2 separate regions of the Homo sapiens genome follow, and region 1 is linked to region 2. The links come from fine-mapping of genetic effects on gene expression. Tissue or cell type: fibroblasts. Region 2 holds a variant in brackets; the other region holds the start of a gene. All regions are shown on one strand. Distances are from middle to middle.

Region 1 (8,929 bases), 280 kb after region 2:
CCACATGGCTGGGGAGCCCTCAGGAAACTTAAAATCATGGTGAAAGGCACCTCTTCACAGGGCAGCAGGAGAGAGAATGAGTGCCAGCAGGGGAAATGCCAGATGCTTATAAAACCATCAGATCTCGTGAGAACTCACTCCTATCACAAGAACAGCATGAAGGAAACCATGATTCAATTACCTCCCACAAGATGCCTCCCAGGACACATGGGGATTATGGGATTACTATTCAAGATGAGATTTGGGTGGGAACACAGAGCCAAACCATATCAGCCAGTGTGATGGTTAATAGAGCATGCAGACAGCCTATTGTGGGACTATATATATATATACACATATATATATATACACACATATATATACACACACACACACATATATATATACACACACACACACACATATATATATATATATATCCTATTAGTTCTGTTCCTCTAGAGAAACCTGACTAATGCAGCCAGCAATTCCATTCCTAAGTATATGCTCTAGAGAAATTCACATACGTACACCAAGAGTCATATACAAAAAGTTCATAGCACTCTATAATGGTAAGCCATTGGGAAAGTGACTTATTTTCATGCTATGGAATCATAACAGAAATGAAAATCAGCTAACTAGATACAGTATACATGTCAATTTGAGTGAAGCTTACAAACAGGGTTGAGTAGAAAAAGGTTGAAGAATTACACTGTATGTAACCAATGATATAATTTTTAAAAGCTGGCAAAAAAAATACTATGTATTGCTTAAGGATACCTACACAGAAATAGAAATGCTCAGGAATAATAAACACTAAATTTAGGATAATGGGTACATCTTTGGGAAAGGGAGGTGTTGCAATATGGGAGATGTACAGGTAGCTCCAACTATGTTTGTTTTTCTTTTTTCACAAAAATCAGATAGTTTTATGTTGTAAAAACATTAGTTATTTGTCAAAGGTTATGTTCTTCCGTCTTCATCTGTCACCAGCTGTCAGCATCTCCTTTAAATATCGGTTTTTTCTTCATAATGACACCTGCATGTGGCTCGTTGGCTGTCCAGATATGGTTTACAACCTAAATGTATAACACTGTCAAACAAGAGCTCCATTGTTGTTTCACATGCCTGAACATGCTAAGTTAGTCCTAGTGTTTTCTGTACTTCTCGGCAGATCTTGGAGAGGCAATACTGGAATTTCTCATCACAGTCATTCTTGCTTTTGCCACAGTTCTCATAGCACCTGTCGTGTTAGTTGCAACACTTTGTCAGGGAAGGGATACCAATGTTAAGATGAACGCCAAACAGTGGAGAGCCACATCCATTCGGTGGGGAGGGTTTATAACCATAACGTGGGAAAGGCTTAGATCCGTCACTGCATTTATACTGGCAGAGACCGTCCTCGCCTCCCAGGAGGTCCAAGGCGGCGTTCAGGTACGTGTCTATCTTATGAACGCCGTTCCGGATGGTCTTCAGGGTGGCCCTCCAGTCGGTGGTCTAGGCCTGCTCCAGGCACCTGATAACAGCGGCCATGAGGAGGAGCAGGAGGGTGAGCGCGGGGCGCGGGAGAAGGGCCAACCGCGCAGCGCCGGGCTCTACGGGTCCCCGAGCCGCGGCGGGGGGCGCGTCCCCAAAGAGCCCCCGGGAAGCGCTAGGCAGCGGCGCGGGCCCCGGGGTTGCAGCCGCCAGCTCCATAACCACGCCTCCTTCCCGGCTGGCAGGCAGGGCCTCGCTGGCTTTACGTGAACCGCCTCGGGGAGGCAGCGCGGTCGCGGGGACGCGCCCGCTCACCTGCTTTTTTTTTTCCCTTAAACTGGTAATAGATGTCCATGTAGTTAATTCACACAACAAGGAACTATTGAGTGCCTACTATGTACCATGCACTGCTGTAGACACGAGACACTTGGAGAAGCAATAAAAAAATTTCTCCTTCTGGAGCTTGCATTCTAGTAAATGTTAAATATTGTGTATCTTTGTTTATATCTTAAATGTTTCATTATAAAAATTTTTAAATAATTTTAAAAGGAATGAGAAATATGGATGTGAAATCTCAATTTAAATATGGTAATGGGCAGGGCATGGTGGCTCACGCCTGTAATCCCAGCACTTTGGGAGGCTGATGTGGGTTGATCCCCTGAGCTCAGGAGTTTGAGATCAGCCTGGGCACATAGCAAAAACATGTTTCTACAAAAAAAAAAAAAAAAATGCTGGGCATGGTGGCACGTGCCTGTGGTCCCAGCTACTCAAGAGGCTGAGGTGAGAGGATTGCTTGAGCCTGGGAGGTGCAGGTTGCAGTGAGTGGAGATCGCACCACTGCACTCTAGCCTGGGTGACAGAATGAGATCCTGTCTCAAAAAAAAAAAAAAGAAAAAAAGTAAGCAATCAGGAGATGGAAAAGCCCTTTGTCCAAGTAAACTGGGAGATCGCTAACTAGAAAACATAATTTAAAAGTTCAAGGCATAGGCAGGAGAGGAGATGGCAATGTTTTAGACAGAAGAAACTAATCCAGCAGTTTAACTTTAAAATACATTTTAAAACTTTTTTTCCTTTCTCTTGGGTTTCAAGATACAACCTTGAAGCAAACTGCAAAAGCCTTTTCCCTTAGCTGTAAAATAGACCCCATATCCCTCCCTTTCTCACTGTATATACTCCCTTCACATTTATCTTACTGTATGCTAGTATTTAATTATCTGCCTTCTGAGAAGTTCCAAGGGCTAATCTTGAGACAGACAAACCAAGCCTGGAGACACAGCTGCAAAATTCCAAAGATTACTTCAAGGTGGCTAGTCAACAGCGGGGCCATTGTGGAGATGAGACCAGCCCACGCTCCAGGTAGGCTGGGACCCAAGATAGCCACCAGAACAAGACACACAGACGTTGTACTCTGTACAATTCTTGCATGCTTCCCATATCAAATTTTCCTTTTAAGCCGTTCTCTTTCCCCCCAAAATCGAAGTGGTTACTTTAGATGGGAATCTGGCCACTTCCCCATTACTCCGCTCTCGGTTTTTTTGTTTGTTTTAGTTTGAGACAGGGTCTCACCTTGTCACCCGGGTTGGAGTGCAGTTGACAGCTCATTGCAGCTTGGACCTCCGGGGCCACAGCGATTCTCCTGCCTCGGCCTCTCAGTAGGTAGGACTACAGGCACGCACCACCACACCCGGCTAATATTTGTAATTTTTTGTAGAGACAGGGTTTCGCCATGTTGCCCAGGCTGGTCTCGGACTCCTGAGCTCAATCTCTTGTTAACTGGACTCTGCAAGCCGCAGGGAGAAACGTGCTTTCCTTAGAAAACTAGACTAGAGCATATTTACTGATGCTAAAGAGGTTGGTTTTGTATTTCCCTGGGCAAATAATTCTCTCTGAGCCTCCGTTTCTTCTAGAGATGATGTCCATCTTGCAGGATTGAGAACTGGTATAAGCTCCATTATGAAAAGTGACTGACACAAGCTTGGCAGAAAACGGGTATACTCCGTTTCTCTCCTTAATATCCTCCATGCCATTTGATTGCACAGCAGGGTAGGCGAGTGAGAACTTAGTGTTAGACTCTGTAAAGTATTTAAGATGTGCAGCGAGCTCTGCCTGTCTGAAGTTTTCAACGGACCGGAAAAGGATACTTTCAGGTGCTGAATTATTAAGAAACATATGGTGGGCCCCATTTCCATTTCCCCAGGCTTAAAGGACATGGACAAGCAGGTGAGCCCCGCCCCTGTCTCTCTTCCAGGGCGGAGCTTGGGTAGGCCCCGCCCTCTTGCTCGGTGGGGCGGGGCGAGGGCTGGAGGCGGGGTAGGTCCAGCGAGCGAGCGAGCGCCCAGCGCCTCGGGCTGAGTGAGGGAGGAGGTTCGGTGGAGAGGCTGCAAGTGGGCGAGGGCTGGGCGCAGCGACCTCATTGGAGCCGGCCGGTGGACGCCCCGGCGGAACCGCCCAGAGTTCCTGTCCTGCGCTACCTACCCGAACGCGCCTGCGCGCTGCGAACCCCGCCCCGGTGTCACCTGTTGGAGCCCCCCGCCCGCGTAGCCGTGCACATGCGCACTGCCGGCCGCCGGCCAGTGGGGTCACGTGTTGCGCGCGAGCCACCTCCCCTGCTGGCGCTTCCTGTCGCTACCGCTGCGGCCCAGGGCCCGCGGGAGCCCAGGGCGGTGCCGGGTGAGACAAGGCCGGGGTTTGGCTCGGATTCACCGCGAGGTATGCCGCGTCCCCGCCCCTCGGCGTGGGGAGTTCTGGGGACCGCGGGGGTAGATGGAGGCGGCGCGGGCGGGGCAGGGCGGCGCGTCCCGCAGCGCGGGAGTGGGGGTCCCGTGTCGCCTCCCCCTACGGACTCCGTTGCCCACCTTCCGTGAGGCCTGGCTGTGTCATCGGGGCCGCAGCCTTGGAGTGTCTGGCCTCGCTTTCACCTGAGCCGGAGTCACTCCCGAAATCTGACACTCAGAGTCCCCCGGAGCGCCCGCCAGCTCCTCCGCCCGCTCCCCGCCGCCTCCACGCCCGTCAGCTGGTCTCCCCGCCAGCGCTGTGGCGAGATGCGCCGGCTTCCTGCCTTTTCCCCCTACCTTCTGTGCACCTCCCCTTTGGTGCCAGAATGGGGTTTCTGAAACACCGATACGATCCCGCCACTTCTTTCCCAGCGCCCTCAGAATAATGCCCAAACGCTTTTCGGCTTAGAGGTTTTCATATTCTGCCGCTTGCTCACATTTCCACCTCGGCTTGTGCATTCAGGCCTCACCGCTTATGCCCCAGTCATACCAGGCCTCAGGTTCCATTGTACAGGCCAAGCTGCTCCCCACTTCAGAGCCGTCAAGTGTTCCCTCGTCTTGGAATCCTATTTCCCTCTTTCCCCCAACTTCTTTGCGTGACTCAGCTCAGGCGTCACCGCCTCGAAGGAGGAGCCTTTTCTCCCAGGGCTGAAGAAGGGGTCACCTCAGGGCACCCATGGCCCCTGGGGCAACCCCGTGTAGTCCACCTCCACCCTGTAAATGGTCATTGAAGGCTGAGACCGTCTTAGGTTCATTTCTGCGCTCCCAGTGCCCAGCGCAAGGTCTGACACAGGAGGTCCTGTGAATAACTGTGAGATCTTTATGGGAATCAGAATGCTGAGCCAGCTTTCTCCAGAGCTCAGCTGTGAGATGGAACTTTGATGACATGTCCTTGGATGATGAAAATGTTCTGTGTGTGTGCTGTCTGGTCATAGCCCCTCACCACATATGGCTGTTAAGCACTTGGAATGTGTCTGTTGTGGCTGATGGACTGGATTTTTAGCTTTATTTCATTTTAATTCATTGAAATTTAAAATTAAATAGCCAGCTGTGGCTTCCATAAGCACAGCTTTAGAGCCTTTCTGAATTCTACCCAGCCTTCCACCCACCCTGAACCTAGAGTACTTCCCTGAATGTGCTTTTTAAATTTGAGTCCGTTCAGAACATTCCTCAGTAAACCCATTAACAGGTGATCCCCATCCCTCCCATGGCCTGTGCTGCTTCAGTGCTTTAATTAAAGGTAACCCATACTTTGGTGTTCAGCATTGCCTTCTTTGGGAGTTTACTATCCACACCTTACCACGGGTAGCACTGTTGGGGGCGTGGCTTATGGGCTACTCCAGCCTGAATCTCTGTAACTCTTCCATAGGTATCTAGGCTGCCATGATGCCAGGGCCAAGACCTCGGAAGGGCCCTCAGGCCAGAGGCCAAGGGGTGGCCGCTGCCAAGCAGGTATGGAACTTAGCCTTCTAGGCTACTGGGTCGGTTTGGGGATGGGGGTCCCTAGACAACTTAGGCAAACTGGATCACATGTAGTTCCCCCATTAGTTCAGAGACTTGGAGCAGTGCCTCCTGGAGGTGGCAGAGCCCTTAGACACCCTCCTACTAGTCTCTTCCACATACAAGTGGGGAGAGGGTTCAGGAATCACCAAAGTTTAGGATGTTCTGATGGGACCTCAGTGCTCTCAAAGGTTCCTTAGATAGGGTCACAACTTTGCTTGTTAGCCAGGGATGCCAGGGCATGAGGGCTGTAGTCAGTGGGAGGACTTCACTGCCTAGGGACAGATGGCTGTGCCCCAAGTGGAAGAACAGGGGGGTCTCCTCTCCAATTTTCTTCCTTTATTTCTTCTGGGCCTACATCTTGAGACTTCTTAGTCCATTTTTACTGTCTTTAAAAAGGCAGGTAAGAAAGGAGGTGGGGTAAAGGGCATAGACTCAAGTCGCAAAGAGCTTGTTTTAAATTCTGATTGTCTCACAAGACTGTCTCAGTTTCATCTGAACATTGGGATAAAAACAGAATGTAAGCTGGGTGCCGTGGATCACGCCTGTAATCCCAGCACTTTGGGAGGCCGAGGTGGGTGGATCACCTGAGGTCAGGAGTTTGAGACCAGCCTGGCCAACATAGTGAAACCCCATCTCTACTAAAAATACAAAAATTAGCTGGGCGTGGTGGCATGTGCCTGTATTCCCAGCTTCTTGGGAGGCTGAGGCAGGAGAATCGCTTAGACCCGGGAGGCAGAGGTTGCAGTGAGCCAAGATAGTGCCACTGCACTCTAGCCTGGGCGACAGAGCCAGACTCTGTCTCAGAAAAAAAAAAAAAAAAGGATGTACCTCTACCTAGAGTAGTCATATTCATGGAAACAGAAGAATGGTGCTTACCAGAGGCTGGAAGGAGGGGAGGAAGGGGGGTTAATGTTTAATGGGTAGAAAGTTTGTTTCACAACATGAAAACAGTTCTGTGGATGGATGATGGCGATGGTAGCAGGATATTGTGAATGTCCTTATGCCATTGAACTCACCCTTAACAGTGGTTAAGATGGTAAATTTCATGTTGTATGTGTTTTACCAGAGTTTAAAAAAATAGGACCTTCTTTTTTTTTTTTTTTTTTGAGACGGAGTCTCGCTGTGTCGCCCAGGCTGGAGTGCAGTGGCGCCATCTTGGCTCACTGCAAGCTCCATCTCCCGGGTTCACGCCATTCTCCTGCCTCAGCCTCCCGAGTAGCTGGGACTACAGGCGCCCGCCACCGCGCCCGGCTAATTTTTTGCATTTTTTAGTAGAGACGGGGTTTCACCGTGTTAGCCAGGATGGTCTCCATCTCCTGACCTCGTGATCCACCCGCCTCGGCCTCCCAAAGTGCTGGGATTACAGGCGTGAGCCACCGCGCCTGGCCAAAAAATAGGACCTTCTTCTCAGAATTGTGAGAATTAACTGAGGTGGTTAAGATAATCACATAGAACGCTAAGAACAGTGCATGATGGCAGCTATTGCTGTTGGTTGTAATAATGGTAGTGTGTTTTAAATTCTGACTCACAAGACTGTCTCAGTTTCAGTGTGGTCTTACTGGGTTTTTTGTTGAGTCCCTAGGAAGGTAAGTGTCTCAAGGAGTAATGTTGCAGGCCTCAGTTTCTTTCTGCACATTGGGCCTCACAGACTGAAGGAGCCACTGATTGGGACTTGGAGAGCCCCAAGTCTGGCTCTGGAGCTGGACCCTACCCTGCTTGTTGTGTGGTTCCTAAGAGTCCTGCTCTGCTCTCAGATGGGGCTCTTTATGGAGTTTGGCCCTGAGGACATGCTGCTGGGCATGGATGAGGCTGAAGATGATGAGGACCTGGAGGCTGAGCTGCTGGCTCTCACAGGGGAAGCACAAACCACAGGCAAGAAGCCAGCACCCAAGGGGCAGGGTGAGTTTGGACACAGGGCTGGTCTTGGTGCTGGGACAAGATGGGCACAGGCTGGTGGTAGAGGGGTTCCCTTGCAGCTGGACGGAGCCAGCCAGATCCCCTGGTCCTTCCAATACCCATCTGCCGCACTCCCACCAAGAGGCGGCCTCGCCCTGCTTCCCCACCTTGTGTCATGGCCTGGGCTGGCCCCTCCCCATTGTGGACAAATGTGTTTCTCAGACTGACTCAGGTCCCCATCCTTAGCCCTAGCCACGGTATTGGTGTAGGGTAGGGGCCCAGTTAGCACAGACTGAACTGGGTACATAGGAAGTACATAGAAATTGTGTCCAGCGAGTTAAGTGGAATCTCCCTCCACAGCCCAGATGAGAACAGAGACTTCAGGCCTGGGAGGATCAGGAGGTCTAAATCGTCCTCTCTTTTCACCGGGAACCCTCAGAGAATCCCCCCACTCATCCCCCACCATCCTGTGTGTCCCTGAGTTGAGGATAATGGGAGGACCTAGGAAGGGGCTCACTGCTCCTGCCTTGGGGTGGCACAAGCCTAGGTTTGAATCCTAGCTCTGCCACTTAAGGATTGCAGTGATAGGAAAATTAATGTTGGAAGTTTCTCAGTTTATTCAATATATGAAAAGGGGATATTATCCATCTTGCAGATTTGTTTTGAAGCTCTGTTGGACTTTGAAAATCTTTACAGATGTGAAAGGTGTTGTTGGAGGTTGGAGAGAGTGGATGGCCATGTCTATGTCAGGCTACCGTAGGCAGAGGTGCAGAGAAAGGAGCAGCTTGTTGCTTGGTGGGGGGCCAAGGAAGGTTTCCCTGTTGAGGGTCTTTTGAACTGGGTCTTAAAGGAAGAGCAGTTTTCCAGGTGGGACTCTGCTGTGGGAGGGAAGAGGGATTTCTGCCTGGGTGGATCTACCAAGCCCCTCCTTTACTCATCCCTGAACTTATCTGAGTTGTGCTGACTTGTTGTGACCTTTTTCCCCCAGCCCCCCTGCCCATGGCCCACATCGAGAAGTTGGCGGCAGACTGTATGCGGGATGTGGAGGAGGAGGAGGAGGAGGAAGGGCTGGAGGAAGATGCAGAGCTGCTGGTGTGTCTGCCAGGCTGGTATCCCAGGGCTCTGAGGCAAGCTTGGGCCTGGTGGAGGAGAGGGCAGTGGAGAGGAGGCTGGGGGTGCCCCTGTATTCTCTGACTCTGAGTGAGTGCTTGCCCCTCCTGGCTGTACAGTGGGTGGCGTGTCTCTTTGACTTCTGGTCTAAGCTCTGCAGTTGGGGATTCTCAGATTTGGAGTAATTACTA
Region 2 (10,487 bases):
CAGGATCTTTCACAGCATTAAAATTTTGAACTTTGATGAATACTGGCTTATCTTTTTTAAAATGTATTGTGCTTTTGATGTCTTGTTTAAGAATTCTTTGCATAACCGCATGTCATGAAGATTTTTCCCTGTTTTCTTCTAAAAGTGTTAGAGTTTTTTGGTTTACATTTAGATCTTTTTTGAGATAATTTTTGTACAAGGTGTGAGATCTAGGTAAAGGTTTATTTTTTACTTATGGAAGTTTAGTTGTTTTAACACCATTTATTGAAAAGACTATCTTCCCCAGTTGAATTGATTTTGCACCTTCATCAAAAATCTGTTGGACAACCTTATGATGTCAGTCTACTTCTGGACCATATTTTGATCTATGCATGTGTCTGTCCCTCCTCCAATACCACACTATCCTCCTTACTGTTTATTATTGTTGCTATACAATAAGTCTTAAAATTGAGTAGTGTGATTTCCTCCAACTTCATTATTCTTTTTCAGTATTACTTTAGCTATTCTAGTTCCTTTGTCTCTCTATATATAAATTTGAGAATTAGCTTATCTATCTATCTATCTATCTGTCTATCTATCTATCTATCTATCTATCTATCTATCTATAAAACTGCCATTTTGGCCAGGCACAGTGGCTCACACTTGTAATCCCCACACTTTGAGAGGCCAAGAAGGGAGAATTGCTTGAGCCCAGGAGTTCAAAACCAGCCTGGGCAACATAGCAAGAACCCATCTCTACAAAAATAAAAAATTAACAGGGTGTGGTGATCCCTCTCCAATTGTGGGGGTCTGAGCAGCTGCCAGCCAAGCCTTCCAGAAGTTACAAGACCTTGGCTCAAGTCCTCATTCTGGTATTAAACGTTGTGCTACTTTGTGCCAAACCCTTCTCTTCTCTGGATCTCGGTTACTACTTCATAAAATGGAACAGAAAATACGACTGGCCTAATTTTCTGTGAATTCTTTTCCATTGAGCTCCTTGGGAGGCTGAGGTGGGAGGGTCACTTGAGCCCAGGAAGTTGAGGCTAGATTGTGCCATTGTACTCCAGCCTGGGTAACAGAGCAAGGCCCTGTCTCAAAAAAAAAGGGCGGGTTGCAATTTTTATGTTTACTATGTTGAGTTTTGCAATTCATGAACATAGTGTATTTCTCCATTTTAGGTCTTCTTTGATTTCCTTCATCAGCATTTTGTAGTTTTTTTTTTGTTTGGTTGGTTATTTTTAGAGACAGGGGTCTCCCTCTGTTGCCAGGTTGGAGTATAGTGACATGATCATAGCTTACAAGTGAGCCTTGAACTCTTGGGCTCAAGGGATCCTCCCACCTCAGCCACATGCCATCATGCCCGGCTAAGCATTTTGTAGTTTTCTTTTTTTTGAGACAGAGTCTTGCTCTGTCACCCAGACTAGAGTGCAGTGGTGTGATCTGGGCTCATGGCAGCCTCCGCCTCCTGGGCTAAAGCAATCCTCCCATCTCAGCCTCCCAGTAGCTGGGACTACAGGCACATGCCACCATACCCTGCTTTTTTTTTTTTTTTTTTTTTTTTTTTTGTAGAGACAGGAGTCTTGTCATGTTGCCCAGAATGATCTCGAACTCCTGGGCTCAAGCGATCCTCCAGTCTTGGCCTCCCAAAGTGGAGGGATTTTGTAGTTTTTAACATACAGAACCTGTACATGTTTTGTTAAATTTTACCTAAGTATTTCATTTATTTTAGAGTAACTGTAAATGGTATTATTGTGTTTTTAGTTTGGGTTTCTAATTTTTTGTTAGTAGTATATATAAATACAATTGATGTTTGGTTTTGACTTTACTGTGACCTTGCTAAACAAACTTAGTTCTTTTTTTTTTTTTTTTTTTTTTTTTTTTTTTTTGAGACAGAGTCTCACTCTGTCACCCAGGCTGGAGTGCAGTGGCGCGATCTCTGTTCACTTCAAGCTCTCCCTCCAGGGTTCATGCCATTCTCCTGCCTCAGCCTCCCGAGTAGCTGGGATTACAGGTGCCCGCCACCAAGCCCGGCTAATTTTGTTGTATTTTTAGTAGAGATGGGGTTTCACCGTGTTAGCCAGGATGGTTTCAATCTCCTGACCTCATGATCCACCCTCCTGGGCCTCCCAAAGTGCTGGGATTACAGGTGTGAGCCACTGCGCCCGGCCCAAACACACTTTGTTCTAACAGGTTATTTTGTGCACGTTTTATAGACTCCTTGGGATTCTTTGTTATTTAAGCTTTCATTTTAAGGCATTCCAACTTGTACAGGGATTTACTTCAACCTTCTCTTCAATACAAGAATCCCCTTAGCTGAATCCCATATTTAGCCTTTTCCTGATTACCTTCCATGGATAGAGGTGCTTTTTTAAAAAACAAAACAAAACAATTTAACAAAACAAAAAAACTTGTTTGTTAAAAAACAAAACAAATTTGTAAAGGATTACGAATTTGTGAGTGAAATATGGCCCAGAGTGATGGAGTTCTTTTTGCAGTATTTCAGGTATACTCTAAATAAGTTCTACCTTTATTGACTCAACATCCATCTCCCTATGGCTTTCCCCACTGATTTCAGCTCTGTTCTCTCGATTCTCATAAAAATGTCTGATCCTCTTGTCCCAGAACAACCTTGCAGAGATCTGAGGCCCTAGGCTGTGAGCCCAGAGTCTCCTCTGTTCAAGGCCAACTATCCCCAGCTCTTTACCTAATCCTCACATGACCTGGTTCCCAGATCTGAAGTAGTCACCTGCCTCTGATCATCTGATTGGTCAAAGTCCATCTCACATTATGGGGCTCTGAGCAACTGGCCAGCCAGGGCTCTGGGGAATCCCTTGGGCTTCCAGGAGTTACAAGACCTTGGCTCAAGTCCTCATTCTGATATTAAATCATTGTGCTACTTTGTGCCAAACCCTTCACCTCTCTAGATCTGTTACTACTTCATAAAATGGTGTAGAAAATACAACTGGCCTAATTTTTCTACTTCTTTCCCTTTGAACTCCAAGTTCTGAAGGATTCTGTCTACATAATAGACTGCATTTATTAAGTACTAATTTTTTCCATTCTGTATTAATCAAAGAGCTCTGATCAGCAGGAGAGCACCTATGTTAATTACCCCCTGGAACTGATATAATTCTAGCTCAAAGAGAAGAAACTTGGTCCCTGTAAAACCTTTGCAATATTGTAGCCAGCTGAGGCAGGAGAACTGCTTGGACCTGGGAGGCAGAGGGTGCAGTGAGCCGAGATGGCAACATTGCACTCCAGCCTGGGCAAGAGGGTGAGACTCCATCTCAAAAAAAAAGAAAACAAAAATTGTTGGGCCGGGCACAGTGGCTCACACCTGCAATCCCAGCACTTTGGGAGGCTGAGGCGGGTGGATCACGAGGTCAGGAGTTCAAGACCAGCCTCTGGCCAAGATGGTGAAACCCCGTCTCTACTAAAAATACAAATATTAGCCAGGCGTGATGGCAGGGGCCTGTAATCCCAGCTACTTGGGAGGCTGAGGCAGAGAATTGCTTGAACCTGGGAGGCGCAGGTTGCAGTGAGCAGAGATCACACCACTGCACTCTAGCCTGGGCAACAGAGCGAGACTCCGTCTCAAAAAAAACAAAAAACAAAAAACCTTTGCAATATTGGAGATTGCTCAAGAATCCCCACTGCTATGTTTGGGGACCCTCAGGAAATTGGAAACCAAAGTTGGGAACCTACAGAGTAGACGATAAAAAGTTATTTCTGAGATGTGATGGCTGGTGAGTTCTATCCAACTGAAAGTTAATATAGATCATCACTCCTTTGCTTCCAGACCTTATACTCTGTTAATGTGACCTGAGGTTCCACTCACTTTTTTTTTTAGCAATTACATTACATTTTTGGCTTATGTGGGAAGCTGTTAAAAAAAAAAAAAAGGTTAGGCCAGGCGTGGTGGCTCATGCCTGTAATTCCAGCACTTTGGGAGGCTGAGACGGGTGGATCACCTGGGGTCAGGAGTTCAAGACCAGCCTGGCTAACACAGTGAAACCCCGTTTCTATTAAAAATACAAAAATTAGCCGGGTGTGGTGGCAGGTGCCTGTAGCCTCAGCTACATGAGAGGCTGAGGCAGGAGAATTGCTTGAACCCGGGAGGCGAAGGTTGCAGTGAGCCAAGATCACACCACTGCACTCCAGCCTGGGTAACAGAGGGAGATTCTGTCTCAAAAAAAAAAAAAAAAAAAGGGTTTTAAAAAAAAGAAAATGGTATGTTTGAGATTGCCAACATGTAAAAATTGAAGCGCCTAATAATAATGAAAATGACAGCCACTAATTGTTAAAAGCCTACTATGTGTTTGAGACTAATTAAATACCAGTAAGCATCATTTCTAGTTTTTGCAACAACTTTCTTAGTAGCTATGAGGGTACACATTTTAGAGTAAATTGAGGCCGAGAGAAAAATGACTTGCTTAAGGCCACACACTGACAGCAGCAAGGCCAAGATTAGAACTAGGTTTTCTGGCATCTCTGCCCAGCGCTGTGCCTTCCCTCCTTTCTCCAAGGACCTCCGTGGCCAGTCCCCCATTACCTGGGGTTCTCAACCCTGAACATGGGCCTAGCCTGTGGTGACCAGCTTGGAAAGGAGTTCTCAGGTTTTCCCCCTGCTTGGAGGAGTCAAAACAAACTCATCACTGACTGAAGCATGTTTGGTTCCTCGGCGTTACCTCTCAAGTATGGTTAATTAAAAAGCAGTGGGCTCTGGGGTGACATGACTGAGCCTTCTGTGGAAGGTGGGAGGGGCTGATGAAAGTCATTCTGCAGTATAGGGGCAGCTGCTGCAGGGAAAGGTCTCTGGCTGGGAGGCAAAGGCTTGGCCACCAATTGGCTGGGTGACCTTAGGCACATGACTGCCTCTCTCTGGGCCTCAGCTGCCCCATCTATACAGTGAGAGCATCAGACTTTATTTCTAGGAGCTTTTGAGTTCTAGTTGATGAGAATGGCTGACTAATGACCTCTTCACCAACAACTTTCAGAAAAGGATAAGAATTGGACTCCTTAATTTTCCCCCCAATGTTTTAGTATCTTATTAAATGTACCTAGATATCACCTCTACACTCACCTCACTGACCTCATCTGCAAAATGGGAGTTGATAATAATCACCAGGCAGAGTAGTTGAGCAGGTTAAAGGGGATGATGTGTTTGAAGTCCTTAGCACAGTGCCCAGCTCAACAGTAGGAACTCACTTTTCTGATCTAGCCAGTTCCTCACAAAGTACCAGAATAAGAAAGTTATGGTCTTCATTGCCATCCCAAGTTTGGGGATGGGATGGGTGTGACGGTGATGGGACAGAGTACAGAATGCCTGGGCAGGGAAAGAAGCCTATTTCAGAAACTGCTTTTCCATTTACACTCTGCTCTTGCCAAGGCACTCCCCACCCCACCCTTGCCTCCATACTCAGAGCTAAGGAACCCAAGGGACAGTGCAATCATAGGCTTTAGAGTCTGGGAGATCTGGGTTGACATCGCAGTGACACATGCTCACTGGCTATGTGGACTTAGTTCATTTCCCTTGGCTGAGCCTTGGTTTCCTCTGCTATAAAATGGGGGTAAAGACCTCTCTCCATGTCCTATTGAAGCGCAAGAGAGCAAACAGAAATGAAAGTCTATCAACAGTAAAGCTCTGATGAATGTAAGAGAGTGGGCCTGTAACCATCTCAGATGCAGAAGGAAGCTCCTGGGTTGATGCTTTGGGTGCAGAGGGAAGGAGAGGCCAACACTTAATGAAGAAGAAGGGTAGGAACTAAGAGCTGAGTTTGAGCAAAAAGCAGAGAGAGCCTAAAGCTGTTATTTAGTAAAAGGTCAGGCAATGCACTTTTCTTCTTAAAAATAAGAAACAAAAATCAAGAGGACATGCTGTCTCAAATTCTCGTGACTGAATAATTCAGCTGGTGGCTGAGCAGTGAAAAGCAGGAGGATGGTTTCCATTCACAGGGCCGAGGGATGAACTGTATTCC[G/A]CTTGAGCCAGAAAAGTAGGAATTAGGGGATGGGTAGGGTGGGGTGAGACTAGGAGCACAGAGCACAAGCCAGAACATCCCACAGTCCTGCTCTAGGAGGATGGAAAGAGCAGGACTTTGGAGGCAGAAAGACACGTGTTTGATTTCCAGCTCCACAATCACAAGCTATGTATGACCCTTGTGCAAATCATCTAAGCTCTCTGAGACCTGATTTTTGCATCTGTAAACTGGGTTATAATGAGACCTACCTCACTGGGATAGCTGGAAAGATTAGAGGAGATGGTGTGTGTGAAATTTCAAACAGTGTCTGGCACATTGTAGGGATGCCCCTTTCACAGCAACAGGGATAAGGAGAGGAAGGAGGGTGAAGGGGAGAGTTGGCTCTGTCACTCATTCGGTGACTTTGGGTCTCAGTTTCCTCATCTGTAAAATGAAAGTAATAGCATGATCTATACCCTACCCAGTTACCATAAAGAGCAAATAATATGGTACATTTAGAGCTAGTTCATTCCTTTTGCCTATATTGTATCAATATTTAATTATTCTATTATACCACAGTTTATGATCCATTCCTCTACCTATGGACATTTAGTTTCCAATATGACAGGTTCTTAAGATGTCTGTCTTTACAAAGCCTCTCCTAATGCAACTATTTAAGGCAGCTAATTAGAAGTAGAATTACTGAGTAACAGGGTATATATATAAAACTAACAATTATATAATATTGATAATTAATTATGTAATAATGAAATATATTATATATAATTATATATTAGATATGTTAATATATAATTATATGATATATTAATATATAATTATATATATTATTTAAATAGATATTGCCAAAATTCTCTGTAAAGTGGTCGTACCAATGCATACTCTTACCAGCAGTATATGAGAGTACCTGCTTCCCCCATCCCAACCTTCCAACCTTCTCACTTTTAATATGATACATTTTTGGGCTTTTGCCAATTTGCCAATGTAATTTTTTTTTTTTAATAAAGATTTTTCTTTTTTTCTTTTTTTTTTTGAGACAGGGTCTTGATCTGTCGCCCAGGCTGGAGTGCAGTGGCCGATCCTGGCTCACTGCAGTCTCCACCTCCTGGCCTCAAGCAATCCTCCCACTTTAGCTCCCCAGGTAGCTGGATCTACAGGCATGTGCCACTATGTCTGGCTAATTTTTGTATTTTTTGTAGGGATGGGTTTCACCATGTTGGCCAGGCTGGTCTCGAACTTCTGACCTCAAGTGATCTGCCCGCCTCCACCTCCCTAAGTGCTGAGATTATAGGTGTGAGCCACAGTGCCTGGCCTGGATGTATCATTTTTGAATTGCATTCCCCTGATTATTAGTAATGTTGAGCATCTTTTCCTGTGCATTGGGCATTTGCATTTCTTTTTTAACAAATTACATTTTTCTTATCTTTTAAGGTGTACTTATATCAATACTGCCTTGTTTTATATACAGTTGATTCTCATTATTCACGGTAGTTATATTCTACAAAGTCACAGCAAACACTAAATTAACAAATACTGAATTATTGCTCCTAGGGGAAATACAAGGTTATGTTCCTGTGAGCCTCTGGTCACATTTTTGTCAACTGATCAATATGTAACTTTGTTTTTCTATGTGTGTTTCTGTTTAAAGTGACCTTATTTAATATGTTATTGATTCATTAACATTGAACTCATGGCCAACAGCACTATAACCTAAAACTCATGTCTCTAAAACAAACAAAAACAGGCCAGGTACAGTGGCTCACACCTGTAATCCCAGCACTTTGGGAGGCCAAGGCAGGCATATCACCTAAGTTCAGTAATTCAAGACCAGCCTGGCCAATATAACGAAACTCTGTGTCTACTAAAAATACAAAAAAAAATTAGCTGGGCATGATGTTGGGTGCCTGTAGTCTCAGCTACTTGAGAGGCTGAGGCAGGAGAATTGCTTGAACCTGGGAGACGGAAGTGGCAGTGAGCTGAGATCGCACCACCGCACTCTAGCCTGGGCGACAGAGCAAGACTCCATCTCAAAAAATGAAAATAAAAATAAACCAAAACAAAACAGTGAAATCACCCATTAAAAATAAAAAAATACAAAAACCATGGCACTAAATAGACTGAGAAAAAGACACTTGCTTGTACCATGAGAGCTGCAAAGAGAAGGCAGAGCATACCTTATTCAATATCACCTAGGATACATGTGTAAATCAAATTTTTTGCTACTCTGTGTGTGCCCACATTTACAAATGACCTCAGAATTGCCTTGAGTATTGATGCTGACGTTACAAGTAAATTTTAGCAAGTAGGGAAATTTGCAAATACAGAATTGGAGAATATGAGGACTAATTGTGTGTGTGTGTGTGTGTGTGTGTGTGTGTGTGTGTATAGATATTTAATGTAATATAATATCTTTGCAGCCCATCATTTGTTTTTTAACTTCACATACAGTGTCATATTATTTGTACTTGATGTAGGGACATTTGCCAATCTTTTCCTTTATTTTTTAGAAAATTATACATTTTATACAAATTCCTATATTTTTATTAGTCTGTTTCTGGACTCTTTCTATTCTAGGTTTTTCAACTTTAGTACTCTATTCTCTACTCTAGGGTTTCTCAACTGGTACTATTGACATTTTGGGCCAGATAATTCTTTGTTGTGAGGTACTGTCCTCTTTATTGTAGGCTGTTAAACAGCATCCCTGGCCTCTACCAATAGTTATCAATAGTATCCCTTCCCCGAATGTGACAACCAAAAATGTTTACATACATTGCCAATTGTCCTAGGGGAACAAATTTGTACTCAGTTTAAAACCACTGCATTGCCCAATTCTATTTGTCAATTTCTGTGCCAATATCACAAAACTTATATTTTTAAACAGAAATCCTTTATTTTAAAAAATGTCCTGCTGCCTGATAGAGCAAGTCCCTCCTCTTCTTTGTTTTCCAAAATTGTGTTGTTCATTCTTGCACCTGTATGCCTCTAGATTAACTTTAGAATTAATTTGACAAATTCCATGAAACATTTTTATTTATTTTTATGTATAGGTTAATTTAGGAAGAACTGGCATTTCTATGATATTGAGCCTTTCTATCCACATATGTGCCATATCTCCCATATAGTCAGGTTCTTTTATGTCTTTCATTGACCTCTATAAAAGTTGAAACCAGCTGGGTGTGGTGGCTCACACCTGTAATCCCAGCACTTTGGGAGGCCAAGGCAGGTGGATTGCTTGAGGCCAGGAGTTTGAGACTAGCCTGAGCAGGACGGTGAAACTCCATCTCTACTAAAAATACAAAAAATTAGCCAGGTGTGGTGCTACGCACCTGTAGTCCTGCTATTCAGGAGAATGAGGTGGGAGAATCACCTGAGCCCCGGAGTGCAAGGCTGCAGTGAGCCATGATTACGCCACTGCATTCCAGCCTGGGCAACTGGAGTGAGACCTTGTCTCAAACAAAACAAAACAAAACAAAACAAAACGTTGAAGCCTCAGTTGTCTCTGGTCTCCACCAGGCTGGTTCTATGTGCAGACGTTTTTCTTTTCCCCTGCCACTGCCTCTCAGGTCTTTCTCACTCCAAGAGGAGCCAGCTGAATCCTTCCACCCTCAAAAGTGACCCCTCCTGCTTTTTGCTGCTCAGTCACAGCTGGATTATTCACAGTCATCAGGATCTGAGAAGGGTTCTTGTGCTGTTGCTTGTTGTATTTTTATTGTTAACTTGGAAAATTCGTGTTTACAAATGATGGCATTCAGCCCTCTCTTTCTCTGAGACTTAGCTACTACCCACCTTGCCCCTTCTACCTCCCCGATGCCTCCTGTCACCCTTACTTCTTCTTCTTCTTCTTTTTTTTTTTTTTTTTGGAGACAGAGTCTTGCTCTGTTGCCCAGGCTGGAGTGCAGTGGCGCAATTTCTGCTCACTGCAAGCTCCGCCTCCCGGGTTCACGCCATTCTCCTGCCTCAGCCTCCTGAGTAGCTGGGACTACAGGCGCCCACCACCAAGCCCAGCTAATTTTTTGTATTTTTAGTAGAGACATGTTTTCACCGCATTAGCCAGGATGGTCTCGATCTCCTGATCTTGTGATCCGCCCGCCCTGGCCTCCCAAAGTGCTGGGATTACAGGCATGAGCCACTGCACCCGGCCCCACTTTTTTCTGAGACACGGTCTTGCTCTGTCTCCCAGGCTGGAGTGCAATGGCACAATCTTGGCTTGCTGCAACCTCCGCCTCCCGGGTTCAAGCGATTCTCCTGCCTCAGCCTCCCGAGTAGCTGGGATTACAGGTGCCTGCCACCACACCCAGCTAATTTTGTATTTTTAGTAGAGACAGGGTTTTGCCATGTTGGCCAGGCTGGTCTTGAACTCCTGACCTCAGGTGATCCACCTCCCTTGGCCTCCCAAAGTGCTGGGATTACAGGCATGAGCCACTACAACCGGCTGTCACCCTTACTTCTTTTGCTTAGCTTAAATTTCTCCCCCAGGCTGCCTGGCCTTATTCCCTGTGGTGCCCAGTGTGAATGACCCTGTCACTGCAGAGG

Evidence for each region. PIP is the estimated chance that this variant, and not a neighbour inherited with it, causes the effect.
Region 1: it holds the start of CC2D1B, and the variant in region 2 is fine-mapped to the expression of CC2D1B in fibroblasts (GTEx, PIP 0.98).

What each region holds. Positions count from the first base shown.
Region 1 is chr1:52,361,304-52,370,232 of GRCh38, reverse strand. CC2D1B (coiled-coil and C2 domain containing 1B) reads left to right here and starts at 4,028. Exons shown (of 25, transcript NM_001330585.2): 1 at 4,028-4,164; 2 at 5,599-5,681; 3 at 7,487-7,631; 4 at 8,617-8,720. The coding sequence starts at 5,613. It also overlaps the pseudogene PLA2G12AP1. RefSeq lists silencers at 1,427-1,506, 1,567-1,666, 3,649-4,278, 4,319-4,428 and an enhancer at 1,787-1,836.
Region 2 is chr1:52,644,344-52,654,830 of GRCh38, reverse strand. All of the region lies in intron 2 of SHISAL2A (shisa like 2A), which reads right to left. Among named protein-coding and RNA genes, the nearest start is that of SHISAL2A, 16 kb to the right of the region's middle. RefSeq lists an enhancer at 2,540-2,834 and a silencer at 2,540-2,834. The variant G/A (reference allele first, on the strand shown) is at 5,958.